Linked DNA regions of Homo sapiens. The protein of the gene in region 2 purifies or fractionates together with the protein of the main gene of each other region. This does not show direct contact. Each region holds a gene or a part of one and is shown on either strand. Other genes may lie near its edges.

Evidence for each region. Proteins that work in one complex are often made in the same cells at the same time.
Region 1: the proteins of ZDHHC7 (region 2) and MARCHF6 purify together in Homo sapiens (affinity purification with mass spectrometry; 2 studies listed by BioGRID and IntAct, with this or other methods). This does not show direct contact.

Annotation. Positions count from the first base shown.
Region 1 is NC_000005.10:10,352,377-10,356,494, reverse strand, and holds the start of MARCHF6 (E3 ubiquitin-protein ligase MARCHF6), read right to left. Parts: upstream 2,801-4,118; 5' UTR 2,597-2,800; coding exon 2,578-2,596; exon of another isoform or gene 1,453-2,577; intron 1-1,452. UniProt on the Homo sapiens protein: Endoplasmic reticulum membrane-associated E3 ubiquitin ligase that plays a critical role in mitigating endoplasmic reticulum stress, the regulation of cholesterol and lipid homeostasis, and ferroptosis.
Region 2 is NC_000016.10:85,001,536-85,005,035, reverse strand, and holds part of ZDHHC7 (palmitoyltransferase ZDHHC7), read left to right. Parts: intron 1-452; exon of another isoform or gene 453-686; intron 687-1,792; exon of another isoform or gene 1,793-3,371; intron 3,372-3,500.

The DNA.
Region 1 (4,118 bases), on a different chromosome or scaffold from region 2:
GAACCTGGGAGGTGGAGGTTGCAGTGAGCAGAGATCATGCCACTGCACTTCAGCCTGGGCAACAGGGCAAGACTCCATCTCGGAAAATAAAATAAAATAAAATAAAATAAAATAAAATAAAATAAAATAAAATAAAATAAAATAAAATAAATAAAAAACAGAACCACAACAGTATAAGTGTTTTCAAAAGTAGGTGATACTGATTTTTTTTTAATTTAGTTTTATGTTTGGCCATACTTTGAATATCTCCTACCAAAAAATTTCTAAGCAGATTTAAAAAACCTAAGTCGCATTTTTTAAAGAAATAACCTATAATAACTGATTTCACAAATAGAACATTTTTTATTAGTTTTTTGGCATCTTTGCTATATCATTTTTAATCCTCTATAACCCTCCCTTTTCCTTTAAGTGTTATTTCAACTTAAATTTAATTGTAAAAATGTCAGAAGACTTCCAAACTGGAATTTTGCAAAAGCAGGCATGAGAATACGGCACTAAAATTCACTTGCATTTCATGACTAATAATTTCATAAAACAAAATAAAGCAAAATAAAGTTTCCACCAAATTATATAAATGATTCATCCTATAGAGGGAGTGACAAAAATAAATTTCAACATTGGACTTGTAGTATACACTCATAAATAAATAATCTAATTTAAGTGCGACTCTGACAGACATGAGTCTGAATCTTGCCTCTGCCATTTACTACCTGTATTATCCTGGACAAGTTACTTAATCATACTAACCATCAGTTTCCTCATCTGTAAAATGAAAATGCCGACTACCTAACGATGTGAGAGAATTAAATGAAATGTATATAAAGTGTTTAGTAAAGCACATACTACACGTTGAGTCTTCAGCACATGTTATTTTAACAGGCAACAGTGTTCAATAAATAAATGTTATGTATACCTTATCCTGATTATAATTTTACAAGAGAAAAAATATATTTAAGCACTAGAAGTACAGTGAAAATATTTCATGATTCCATACGTGCTTCGAGCGCAATTCCTGAATTACCACAGATTACTGTCACACCATAAAAGTATGCAAGTAGCAATGCCCAGGCCAAAAGAATGAGAATTGAATGTAATACGTCCGTACCTATCCTGTGATAAATACATGCCTTACTAGATTTACTCATTAAAACCTGAATCTAAAAGGATGTGAAACCTATGTAGATGGAAATTTACACGCAAGGACCACCTGTCAAAAAGAAATAGTTCGCAACCTTCAGCAGTTTCGCTTTACTATTTTTTCCAAAGGCGTCTCCAGTGGCGATTAGCTACACTCAGTGTATATAATAAACACACTGTGGCATAATGAAAGGGAAATTACTTGCAATCAGAATGCCTAGGTTCAAATCTGCCTCTTACTACCTGTGTAAAGCTTCGACAAGCTATTAAAATAACGAAGCCTACATTTCCACATCTATAAAAGATAATACCTACCTATTCCACAGGCTTTTTACGAAGATGGAACGCGAATGTACATCAAGTGCCACATGTTATAGTTGAGGTATTTATTAAAGGCAAGACTTCTTTAAAAAAAAATAAGTCGTTATCAACTCATTACATAGATAATATCAAACTTTTTTCACTCATTATTGCACTCCATGACGGCGTTTGATAATTCATTTTCGTTTAAAATCGCCAAAATCGCAACCCATAAGGTTGAAAGACGCTCATACCCCCATAAATATACCTAAAGTAGAAAAGCATTTGCACGATAACCGGAACATCAAAAAAAGCAAAATTTAGTAATTTCCTCTATAAACTCACCACTCATTTAAAAACACAGCTGGTTAAAAATAATCTACTACCTTCAGTGGGTAAGAAAATGCGTTTGAAGAGACATAAGGTGTGGACGTTTATATCTTAAGTATTCATTTTACAAGGGTCAGTTTGTTCAATGTAACCGTATCCAAAACACAAGCAATCGCAAAACAAAACAAACAGAACCCTGCTTATAGGTGTCAAGGATTTAAAACCAAATGGATCGCAACAAAAGAGCCTCCCCGTTTAGTAAACAGATTCTCGAGCGGCAGGCAAGCCGAGGACCAGGCTTTTCAACAGGGGTCAGCTCACTCCACTCGGCCGTCATCTGGCGGGGTATTTTTCGCGAAGTTTCAAAGTCAACAAAGAAGTTCTGTCGCGAGGGGGTAGGGCCTGGCGAGCAATAGGCAGAAGGACGTAAAGAAAGACAAAACCCAGTGGGGGAAGGGTGCGGAAAACGCCCCCGGACGGCAGCGACAGAGGCCCCCTTTTCTGGGCCAGCGCGCGACGGCGGGGACAAGGGAGGCCACGCCGGCCTGCAGTAGCCCCGAGGCCCCGACCCCGGCCCCGGCCCCTGCCCGGCAGGGTCCCCGCCCCCCTCGGCGGCGCGGGCGGGAAACGGCGGGGGGCGCGCAGAGGGTCACCTTCCGCTCCCCGGCCCAGAGGCCCAGCGGGTGGACAAACGGCCCAGGCGTCCGCCCCGCCGCGATCCAGCAGCCCACCTCGAGCGCCGCGGACCTGGCCGGGGTACGAACCCGGGCGCCGACGCAAGGGCTCGGGCGCCGCGCGTCGCCGACTTACCTTCCTCCGCGGTGTCCATCTTGTCTGGGGGGGCGGCGGTGACGCAGCCACGAGGCTCCCGCGGCCGGGCGGGGAAAGAGGGAGGGGAGAGGAGGAGGGAGCCGGGCCCGGGCAGGTGCGTACGCTCAGGTGCGAGAGAGGAAGCGAGAGGAAGGAGAGGGGAGAGGGAGAGGGAGAGAGGCTGACAGAAAGCGAGCGACACGGGAGGGGGAGGGGCGGGAACACCTAGGGGCGAGGCCTGGGCGGGGCGCCGAGGCGGAAGGGGCGGGAGCTCCCCAACGACAGGCGCTGTCACTTCCGGCGGCCGCGGCGTGCACTGTCGGTCGGCGGCTAAGGAGGGGAGGCACCTGCATCTGGGGCGCGGCGAATCCTCGCGTGCGCCAGGCCGCCTGGGGTAGTCGCCGAGACTGCGCCGGCCAGCGGGGCCGAAACCTAATCAGGAGCTGAGCTTTGATGGCGGCTTCTGGAGGGACAAAGAAGGCGCAGAGCGGTGGGAGGAGGCTGCGAGAACCTAGCTCCCGCCCCAGCCGACGTGCGAGACAAAGGCCCCGGCGCGGGGCTCTTCGGAAGGCCGGGAGGTTCCTGTGACAATGCGAGTCTGCGCCCCACGCTCCCGCACCGTGATGCCGAGGCCAAATGGCTAGAGTGGGCCCAGGCATCAGCATTTCTGTTTGGCAGCCGGGCAGTTGTGGTGCACGTTTTGAGGAACTACTAAAGCCTGCCTGTGATGAAAAAGGCAAAAGCTGACTTCACCAAAATTACTCCCAGGGAGACTTCTGCATTTGGCTGGAAGGACATTTGAGTAAACCGCTGAGGCTGGTGGTTGAAACATAATCCTCTAAGGGAGATCGGTTCCGATACCCTGAGTTAGGGACGCTTGCCTGGGCAGAGCTAAGGGGAGAATGATCAAAAGCCAAGCTCTGTCCCCGTCAGCACGTCACCCTCCCTCACTGTAATCCCTGACTGTTTTCTCTAAATGAAGAATTATTTAGAGAATATAAATTAGAAGGGCCGCCACGTCAGAATTGCCTGAGTGGGAGCAGTCTTTCCAGCCTCGAAAAATGTTTAAACAATATGCAGATGACCTAGCACAAATAAAGAATGCTAGCAACCGCTGTTATGTGTGAGCGGTGGAATTGGGAGGGCTCTTCCCCCAATCTTCATCAAACAGAGTAAGGTTTAGAATAAAAATAATGAAATACAGTCTTTCAAAAAGAGCAGCGCTTGACTAATGTTACTGATGTCACTCATGTTACTCAAGGGAGGAAAGAACTCAAACTCTACATAATAATACCCACTGATTTCAAGGGCTGGCACGGAGAATTAAGCAGACCGCCATTCTTTATATTTGTTTTTTTGTTGTTGTTTGCTTATGATTTTTTTCTTTCTTTTTTTTTTTTTTTTTTTGAGAAGGGGTCTCGCACTGTCACCCAGGCAGGAATGCAGTGGCGCGATAATGGCTCACTGCAATCTCACTATATTGACCAGTATGATTTTCAACTCCTGTCTTTAAGCGATCCTCACGCTTCGGCCTCCCAAAG
Region 2 (3,500 bases):
AAAGGGGAACCTTTGGGGTACGAGTAAGCATTCCTTGGAGGCCACCTCATCTGGCCTGCGTGCTCTAGTGAGGTCCCGCGCACATGTTTTCTGGACCTGAAGTTGTGACTTGCCTACAGGTGGGGTTTTTCTCTTCACCCCCGTCTCCCTCTTTCTCTATAACCCTTGTGCATTTCTCTTCTACTCCTTTTCTGCCAGGCTCCTTTGGGCCTCTGGCCCACTCCCCTGGCAGATCTTATCACACGCCCCTGTCGTTTGCCTGTGGACTTCCTTTCTACTTTTTCTTGTCTCCCTCAAGCACCCTCCTTCCCTTACTTATTCACTCAAGAAATGTTTGTGGAGTGCGTGGTGAACCCGGGAGTGCTGGGGATACTATGAGTAACATTCCATTGAGGTGATGGCAGAACAAGCAGCCAGGGAGAGGCTGCTAGGAAGGGAGGCCAGCAGGCTCCAGATGGAGTGGGGCTTTCTAGGCCATGGTGGTGGGGTGGAGTGGGGGGTGGGGTGGGATTTTATTCGCACTGAAAAGGCAGTGATTGCATGAGCTTAGGGAGGGGAGTGACATGATCTGATTTACGTCTGTGGAAGACCACTCTGGGTGCTGCATGGGGGACTGGACTGTTGGGTGAGCAGAGGCATGAGAGTAGAGAGAGGACTGGTCAGCAGGTGATCTAAGCACTCCCCAGGTGAGAGCTCATGGGACCTTGGTCTGGGCGGGTGAGGAGGTGGGAGAAGTGGTCGGATTTGGGGTAGGTTTAGAGGTGCACCCCATAGGACTTGCTGATCAGCTAGATGTGGAGAGGTGGGGAATGAGATACATGAAGGGCGGGGCCTTTTTTTTTGGGTGTGGTGTGCCGTTGATTGAGATGGGAAAGAGTGGGGTCGTGACTGAGTGGGGGAGGTTCTGCTTTGACCCTCCTGCCCTGGAGTTGTTAAGTGGCCAGTTGGATAGACGCCCTTAGGGATGCATCGTCAGCCTGAGAGTTTTCCAGATATCTTTTTTTGTTTAAACTTCGTGAAACTGAGGTTCCCCATTAGCTCCTTTGTGGAGAGCATGTAGATGAAGGGAAGGCCGAGGACTAAGCCCGGGTGCTCCCGGCGTTTACATGGGTGGAGGAGAAGTATCCAGTCAGAGACCGGGTGTGGCTAGGGGGAAGGGAAGTCAGTGTTGTCCCCCAGGCCCCTCACTCCTGAGACTGGTGTTCCCTCTCCCACTTCCACGGTTCATTGTGTGCTGTGTGTGTTCCCCCACTTTGCCATGTTTTTGATCTGCAGTGTTCTGATCCTACTGTAGAGTGATTAAGTATTTTAATATGAAATGCCCTTCTAGAAAGGTCAGGCAATGTCACTATTCACCGTATGACTTACGTGCCAGCATATCATTGAGATCTGGCTTGAGTTGGGTTAATATTCTGGTGTGGATTTTTTTTTTCCTTAAAAGTAATATTCTGATCTTTGGATTCAGTAATTTGAGTAGAAAATCATGGTTTCTTAGAGCATCATTTCCTATGGTAGGATTTGAAAGGACAAACTGAATATTTCATGATTGCCAGTTGATGGCAAGAGCACTTAGGAGCGCAGTCGCCATCAGCTCACTGCAGTGGGTCAGCTGAGTGCTGCGCTCCTTTTGTGAGTTGAGGGAGGACGTGAGCTCCCTCTGTAGCCTTCCCCACCTTGACTCAGGTTCCCTGACTCATCCGGGCTGGTGGCATACCTGGGATGTGGCCCCGTTTGCACGGCCCATAGGAACCACTGCCTCCGGATCTTACAGCGCCCCCCTGGACCCAGCCTCAGTCCTGCCCCTCACTTCCTCTGAGTCTGTTTCTCAGGCTCCTCGGGCCCTCAGTGCCCTGAGTTTCGGTCACTTGGCTTACCAGGCCTCTCCTCCTGCCCCCTGGACTCTGAGGTTGGCCTCTCCCGCTTGCATCTTGGTCTTGCCTTCGTTACTCTGCTTTTCTAGCCCATCATCCTGGCTAATCTCCAGCCCTGGGTAAGTTTATGGTGCTGGGCTGGGCTTTTGGATAAAAGGACCAGCCATTCCCATCCTCTATGAGACACTTAAGGTGTCAGCATTGTCTGGGCCCTGCAGGGTGACAGTTCAGGCCCCTCTTGGCCGCCGCCTCTCCACCCCATTTCCATTTTGCGGTCTCCATAGGCCCTCCCAGCGCCGCAGCCCCGCTCCTCCTCTCTGCTGAGACACTCAGCACTCGTCTTCCTGAGTGAACTGCTTTCACTTCTCTTCATGCCCGGGTTTCCCCTTTCTTCCTCCAGGGAGGAAGGATCATTCCGCTTTGTCGACCATCCCCCCACTCCACCCACGCTTTCTCCTATCGATAAAATTCACACTTGATTCAGATTTCCTCAGCTTTTCCTTAATGTCCTTTCTCTGTCCCAGGATCCCACCCAGGATCACACAGGACATGAGTGGGCACATCTCGTCAGCCCCTCTTGGCTGTGGTGCTTTCTCAGGCGTTCCTTGTTTGGATGACTGGCACTTGGGAGCAGTGCTGTGGGTCAGGGATTTTTTTGTAGGATGCTCTTCTCTTGGGACTTGTTTGATATTTTCCTTATGACTAGACTTGGGTGATGCAGTTAGAGGGCCTGTCTCGCCACAGCCTGTCAAGGCTGTGTTCTGTCCACAGGACTCATTGCTATGGATGTGGCCTTGAACACCTGGCTGACTGAGGTGGTGTTTGCCAAGTTTCTCCTCAGTAAAGTTATTTTCCTCCTTTCCGTACTCCACTCGTTAGAAACTGTCCCTGTGAACGGCCATACTTGAGGGGTGGGGAGCAGCGTCCTCCCTGCTGGAGGAGGAGGAGCCACAGGCATTCCTCGGACTCGTGGCGCTGGGTATTTGTCTATTTTCTGTTTATTCAGCCACTGCTTTATATCAGTCTGGACTCGTGCATGTTTACTTGATGCTTCGGGTTATAAAGCAATACTATTTTATTTTCCTGGAAAAAGCTTTGGCCATTGGGAGCTCTTTTACTTGGTTCCTATATCCCTTTCATGAGCCCACCTGTCCCCATGATTGTGTGTGTGTATTGTGAACACTTCATTATTCTCTGGCAATACAAGATGCTCCAAGCTCATCTTGTATATATATTTATTTTTTTTGCCTCAGTCCTGGTTCCTTTTATTTATTAGAGAATGGTATTAAAAACCAAGATCTGTGGTGGCTCACACCTATAATCCCAGCACTTTGGCCGACATGGGAAGATCGCTTGAGTCCAGGAATTCAAGAGCAGCCTGGGCAACTAGCAAGATCCCATCTTGAATATTAAACAACAACAACAAACCAAGATCTGGGAATTAGGTGTGCTGGTGGCTGTTGGTGTGTTGCTTCTAGGCCGTCTCAGCTGACAGAGCAAGTAAATATATGTGTGGATGCTAACCCATGTGTGTATACATATCTGTAGATATTTCCATATGCAACTGCTTGTATCTTCCTTAAACCAAAAACTTAGGTCATTCTAGCTTCCTCCTCTTGCTTACCTGGA